2 separate regions of the Homo sapiens genome follow, and region 1 is linked to region 2. The links come from fine-mapping of genetic effects on plasma protein levels. Region 2 holds a variant in brackets. A gene starts in the other region. All regions are shown on their forward strands. Region 1 holds the start of ITGA5 (integrin subunit alpha 5). Region 2 overlaps FN1 (fibronectin 1).

What was found. PIP is the posterior inclusion probability: the model's chance that the variant is causal. The UK Biobank Pharma Proteomics Project read protein levels with antibody pairs (Olink). The fine-mapping took linkage between variants from a reference panel, not from the people measured, so its PIPs are less certain.
Region 1: ITGA5 starts here. The variant in region 2 is fine-mapped to the plasma level of the ITGA5 protein (UK Biobank, PIP above 0.99).

What each region holds. Positions count from the first base shown.
Region 1 is chr12:54,417,892-54,420,795 of GRCh38, forward strand. It overlaps ITGA5 (integrin subunit alpha 5), which reads right to left and starts at 1,375. Exons shown (of 30, transcript NM_002205.5): 1 at 1,090-1,375. The coding sequence starts at 1,307. The region is part of intron 2 of GPR84-AS1 (GPR84, ZNF385A, ITGA5 and GTSF1 antisense RNA 1); the gene reads left to right.
Region 2 is chr2:215,418,045-215,420,948 of GRCh38, forward strand. FN1 (fibronectin 1) reads right to left here. Exons shown (of 46, transcript NM_212482.4): 11 at 2,629-2,757; 12 at 1,198-1,341. Among named protein-coding and RNA genes, the nearest start is that of FN1-DT, 16 kb to the right of the region's middle. RefSeq lists a silencer at 2,502-2,796. The variant C/T (reference allele first, on the strand shown) is at 1,242.

The DNA of each region.
Region 1 (2,904 bases), not on the chromosome of region 2:
CAGACACCCTTGGTTCTAATGTTGCTTCCACTCTAACTCCTGTTTCCCAAGCCTGTCAGTACCCCATTTTCTAGGCACTCGGGGTCCGGGTCTGCTTATCACTGTGCTGAGTTGGGAATAAGGATCCTCCTTTGAGATTTCCAGGGTCCTGAGTCCTTCATTCTGACGTTCTTGGCCCCACGGAGCCCCCGTCTCCCCAGCTTCCGACCCCAGCCCCAGAAGTCCCGGTCTCAGCACAGCTCCAGCCGACCAGCTACAGGAAACCAGCTTTTCTCTTCCTCCCAAGAGCCAGAGGAAGAGGGAAACCGCCCACCCCCCTTCACGCGCGCACACACCCCTCCCGACACATCCCAGCACCCGCCCTTGGCTGAGTTCGCCCCCAGCCCCAGGGCCCCAGTGCCAGGGTCCCCGCACTCGCCCCCAGTTCTCGGATCCCCTCGCCTGAACAGAGATTGGGGGCGGAGGGAGGAGTAGGAGACAGAGGAGAAAGGAGAGGGAGCCGCCGTCCTCTCTCGGGTCTTTCCCCGGTCTGAGTTGAGGGGGGAGGGGAGGATGAGGCTGGCCCCCATTTAACCTTCCGACCCCCTCAGTCTTTGACTTTCCTCCTACTACACGTAGCTCATTCGGCTTCTACCCGTTCTCTCGCCGCACAATGGCCCCTACGGATCCCGAGGTCTCCTGGAGCCCCCAAAAGCCCTTCCCGGCCTCTGCGCCCCCTCTGCGCCCCCACCCGCCCCAGGTCCCAGCAGCCCACAGACTTCAGCCAGAGACCCTCAGCTCTCCATTCACGCGCTCTCCTCTCCCTTGGCCCGGAGACCCCTGCCCAGACTTCTCCAGCTCCGTGTCCTCTCCCCACCGGACACATGTCTCCCCACTGATCTCAAACGCCAGGGCCCCTCCTCACCCGCCACGGTGCCCTCCCTACTCCAGCGCGGGCCCCCAACTCTAGCCAGGGCCCCCAACTGCAGCTCTATTCCTTACAAACTCCACCCTCAAACTTAAGCCCTGGTCCCCTCCAGACCCCAGCCGCGCCCCCAGTCTCCAGGCGGCTCCCCCACCCCCATCCCGTCTCCAGCCCTCCTCACTCACCCGTCTGTTCCCGGCCGGTAAAACTCCACTGAGAATCCGAAGAAGGAGCCCGGGGGCCCCGAGAGTACTGCTGGGGCCTCCGCGTCTAAGTTGAAGCCCCCGACCCTGGGTGGCGGCGGCAGCAGCAGCAACAGCAGCGGCAGCAGCGGGGGTCGGCGCCGGGGGCCCCAGCGCAGCTGCACGGCGTGGAGAGGGGACTCTGGCGTCCGGCTCCCCATAGCGCCCGCTCTTCCCTGTCCTGGGGCCACCGACCCGGAGCCGCTTCCTAAACCTCCCAGAGGCGAATGACTCAACGCGGGGAGGAGTTTGCCAAACTCCCGGCTGAGCCCTCCCCCCGCCTGCCGAGGGGGCTGGCGGGGGGGCATTCCTGGGTCCCTGGAACTCTGAGCCCGCGTCCCCCACCCCTAAGGGGCGTGGGGGGGGGGCGCACCCCTCCAACCCCCTTTCCCCAGCCCCAGCTGGAAGCCGGTTGTCTGGACTGGGTTAGACTGGGCGGGTTTGGGTTCTTCCCCCTCCTCTCTGCTTCCCCCTCCTTCCTCCCCATTCCTTTCCAGATGTACAACGTAAACGCTCGGAAAACGAGTCGGAAAAGGGAGCGGAGAATTTCCTAATGAGGAAAGGAATCACCTCTGGTGGGCGGAGGAAGCCTGTATATGTGTGTGGGGTCTCCCTCAGTGCTTTAGGGAGGAGACTTTGGGGTCTAAAGAGACAGGAGACTCCTCTGGCGTCCGGCCAACTGGGATTCCCCCTTGCCTTCCGGGGCCGCCGGGTGCCTGGGTTCTGGCCAGCTGGATTTGGGACACAACAGTTGAGGTACAGAGACAGCGTTCGCAGTCAGCTTGCTAGAGGACCTACACGGGCTCCTCAAGTTCCGCTGCTTCCTCCTCCAAGCTTGCTAGTATTGAAAACCCAGGAGTTTGGGGTCATTCATCAGGAGGATTCTGCTCCAGTTTGCCCCCTTCTTGGTCCTAGGGTATGTAAACCTCTGCTGAGCCCCTTCCTTGGATCTGACAGTTGACCAAAAGCCTGCGAGTGGCTGGCCCCTCAGTACCTGCTTGATTAAACTGGCCGGGTTCCTACAAACCTGGAGAATTGTGAGAGGTGGTGGTGGTGGTGGAAAGTCTTGCAAAGGGACCCAACCTTCAGCTCCTAATGGCTGTAAACGCTGGGAGCTCTGGCCAGGCACGGTGGCTCACACCTGTAATCCCAGCACTTTGGGATGCCGAGGTGAGCAGATCACCTGAGGCCAGGAGTTCAAGACCAGCCTGGCCAACATGGCAAAACCCATCTCCACTAAAAATACAAAAATTATCCAGATGTGGTGGTCCGCACCTGTAATCCCAGCTACTCGGGAAGCTGAGGCAGGATAATTACTTGAACCCAGGAGGCAGAGACTGCAATGAGCCGCGATTGCACCACTGCACTCTAGCCTGGGTGACAGAGCAAGACTGTATCCAAAAAAAAAAAAAAAAAAAAAATCCAAAAACCAAAAACCAAAAAAACAATGGGAGCGGAAAGCCAGGACCCCATTCTTCCCAGATTCCCCTGTGGAAGTAGAGGAAGGGACTCTAGAAAGGGAAGGCAGTGACCCCCTGCCCACCTCTTCCCCAAGCTCAGGCTCTGTGTGATGAGATCACTTTTCAGGATTCTAGCCTTTATCTTAGTCTGGGGGAGGGGACTACAAGTCCTTTCAGTCTCTTTCCTCCAGGACTCCTCACTTTCCAGAATAATACCCTGTCAATAATATCCTGTCAACCCTGTCCCTTCTGTTCTCCAGTCCCCTGCCCCACTTCGGGCTGAAAGGCTCAGAATAAG
Region 2 (2,904 bases):
TCCACAATCAGATTTAAATATATATTAAGTTACAAAAAATTAAGTGATTCCTACACCTAAATCCTCCAAGAAATACAATTTAGGAGGTTGGTCAATCTGTGCTATAAGCCTTCAAAAGTGAAGTCACCTTCCCCAGCACTGACAGTGTCTGAGGGTTGGGAAAAGCAGAATCTTCCAAGTTCCTAGAAAAGGTGCATCTGGGTGTTTAGTATTTAGGATGGAACATTAAAGGTAATCAGCTACAATCTTCCCATATTACAGATGAGGAAATGGAGGAATGAGGCTTGGCTAACACTACCTTTGGCCAAGTTGTTCCCATAGCTTGTTCTCTGTCACAGTGAATCTTTTATCACAGAGTTAATCTTAATTTCTGTCGCATGCAGATTCTGACACCCTGAAACTCTTTTGTTTCTGAATGTAGGCCATATTTTCAGTCAAACGTTAGTGAAGACTTTGGAGACTTTGCACCTCAGCAGTTGCTCAAATAACTGATGCCTTTTAATTAGCCTTTCATGTTTTATTAACATGTTTTATTATAATCACTCAGTGAATATTTAAATGCAATTTTCCCCCCAAATGAACTAATTACACCTACAGCTAGGCATGATGTCTTTGTGACCTGGAAAAACCCAGCAATAAACATTTGAGAGTGTTTGAACTGTGTGGGCAGAGAGTTGACCAAGTTACTCAACCCTTGGCCCAACATACTGTGTTCCTGGTGGCAACTGATCAAACAAATGAAAAGTTTGATGCAAAGGGAGCTTAGATGACATGTTGAATGAACACGTACCTTATGCTGCATTTCATGCCATCTCTCTATGCAGCTTCTCTGTTAAGAATCATAATATAAAGCCCCAAACCTTTACTCCCAGCATAACTCACTTGGTGGTTTTTATTTCCATGTATGGATATAAGATGAAATTAGCCAGAGTGTCTTAACCTAACAGAATATTTTACAGAGTTAAGAAGTAAAATTATAAACAGGCACATTTTCATAGCCTTCTCTACCTTTTACTTGATAGAGGAAGAGAGAAAAATTATTTTAATCAAAAATTCAATTGATTATTAGATAATAACAAGAGAAAAGGGTGGGAAAGAGGGGAGACCCCCAACTTAGGCATGAGAGCATTAATAATCACTGCCCTGTTGTTATAACCCAATTGGCAGTTCTCAACTTGCAGTAATAGAGCTACTTACTTGGATAGGTCTGTAAAGGTTGGCAATGCCACTCCCCAATGCCA[C/T]GGCCATAGCAGTAGCACTGGTATCTGACACCATGCACATACTTCTCCCATGAATCTCCAATTTGATAAAACGTCCCAGTCTCTGAATCCTGGCATTGGTCTAAAATACATGGAAGGAAAAGATAAACAGCCTTGAAGACTTATAACTACGAATTTAATTTCAGGGTGCTAGAGCATACATTTAGCTTAAATAGAAATTTGCAATTGTTCTTACAAATATATGCAGTTAAAAAAATATTTTGTTCACATTCTTTACCTTACAGGACAGTTTGTAGTAAAAAAAAAACCAAAGTACCTATTAGGAGGAATATTTAGTTTTCTAAAAGGTAATATTTCTAAATAAAAATGTAAAGATTTAGATTTCAGTGTATATTGATAATCTACACATTAATTTTAAATATTAGTTATTATTTTTACCCATATTAATATAACTGGCTTAACATTTAAATAGCAAGAAAAAAATCTGCAATAATTTCATTTTCCTTACTTCTTCAAAATTTAAAGAAACTGTTTGACATTTAAATGAATGAACTAGACTTTACGAGTATACCTGCTGAGCAGCTTCTAAGAAAACCTCTCAGGCTTCTCTCTCAGTTCTGGTAATCTCACGTCAAACAAACGGATGTTATCAGTTTGTTTTCTCAGTGAGCAACCTGTCTCTTTTGGTAAAGAAATAGTAATGGATCACCTTAAACTTTGTAGTGCTGGTAACACAGCTCTTTTAAGGCTCAGCCTTCACTATTTGCTTAGTTCTATTTTGAAGGGCGGCCAAAAAAAAACCTAGAGTGTTTTGGTGGGTGATATTTACACCCTTTGCTCATGCTGTTACACAGCTGGTAAGGAAGTGAGTTTGAGACCAGCCTGACCCACATGGAGAAACCCCATCTCTACTAAAGATACAAAATTAGCTGGGCCTGGTGGCGCATGCCTGTAATCCCAGCTACTCAGGAGGCTGAGGCAGCAGAATTGCTTGAACCCAGGAAGCAGAGGTTGCAGTGAGCCGAGATTGTGCCATACACTCCAGCCTGGGCAACAAGAGCGAAACTCTCTCTCAAAAAAACAAAAACAAAAACAAAAACAAACAAAAAAAAAAGGAAAGAATACTTTTAATAGCATGGATTATCTTTATGATTCTAAACCCAAGAATAAATTCCATTCAATTAAAATAAGCCTAAATTTGTCACCAAATTCAGCAAAAACCAGACGACTACCAATATCGAGATATTTTGGTCCAGTATTAGAGAGAAGACTTTGCAAAGTTCTTTGCAAGCAACTGATCAAAGTCTGGAGCCAACTTCAGTCATGTGATTTCACATAGCTTTTCTTATCTGAAACTTGCTAACCATTCCCCCTGTGCAAACTCATCTAGGGAAATAGGGCTACTCACCGACGGGATCACACTTCCACCTGCCCCGACCCTGACCGAAGCATGTACAGTTCAGCATGTGCCCCTCTTCATGACGCTTGTGGAATGTGTCGTTCACATTGTAAGTGATGTCATCAACAATGCACTGATCTGTTTAGGAAACAGGTGGGTGAGTGAGAAACTTTTTAAAGTTCCATTGATGAAAGAAAAAAGGTATGCTTCTCAAAGCATACAACTACTTCCACTTAATTATCAACACCTTCCACTAAAATAACTTTTCTACAAGCATAGAATAAC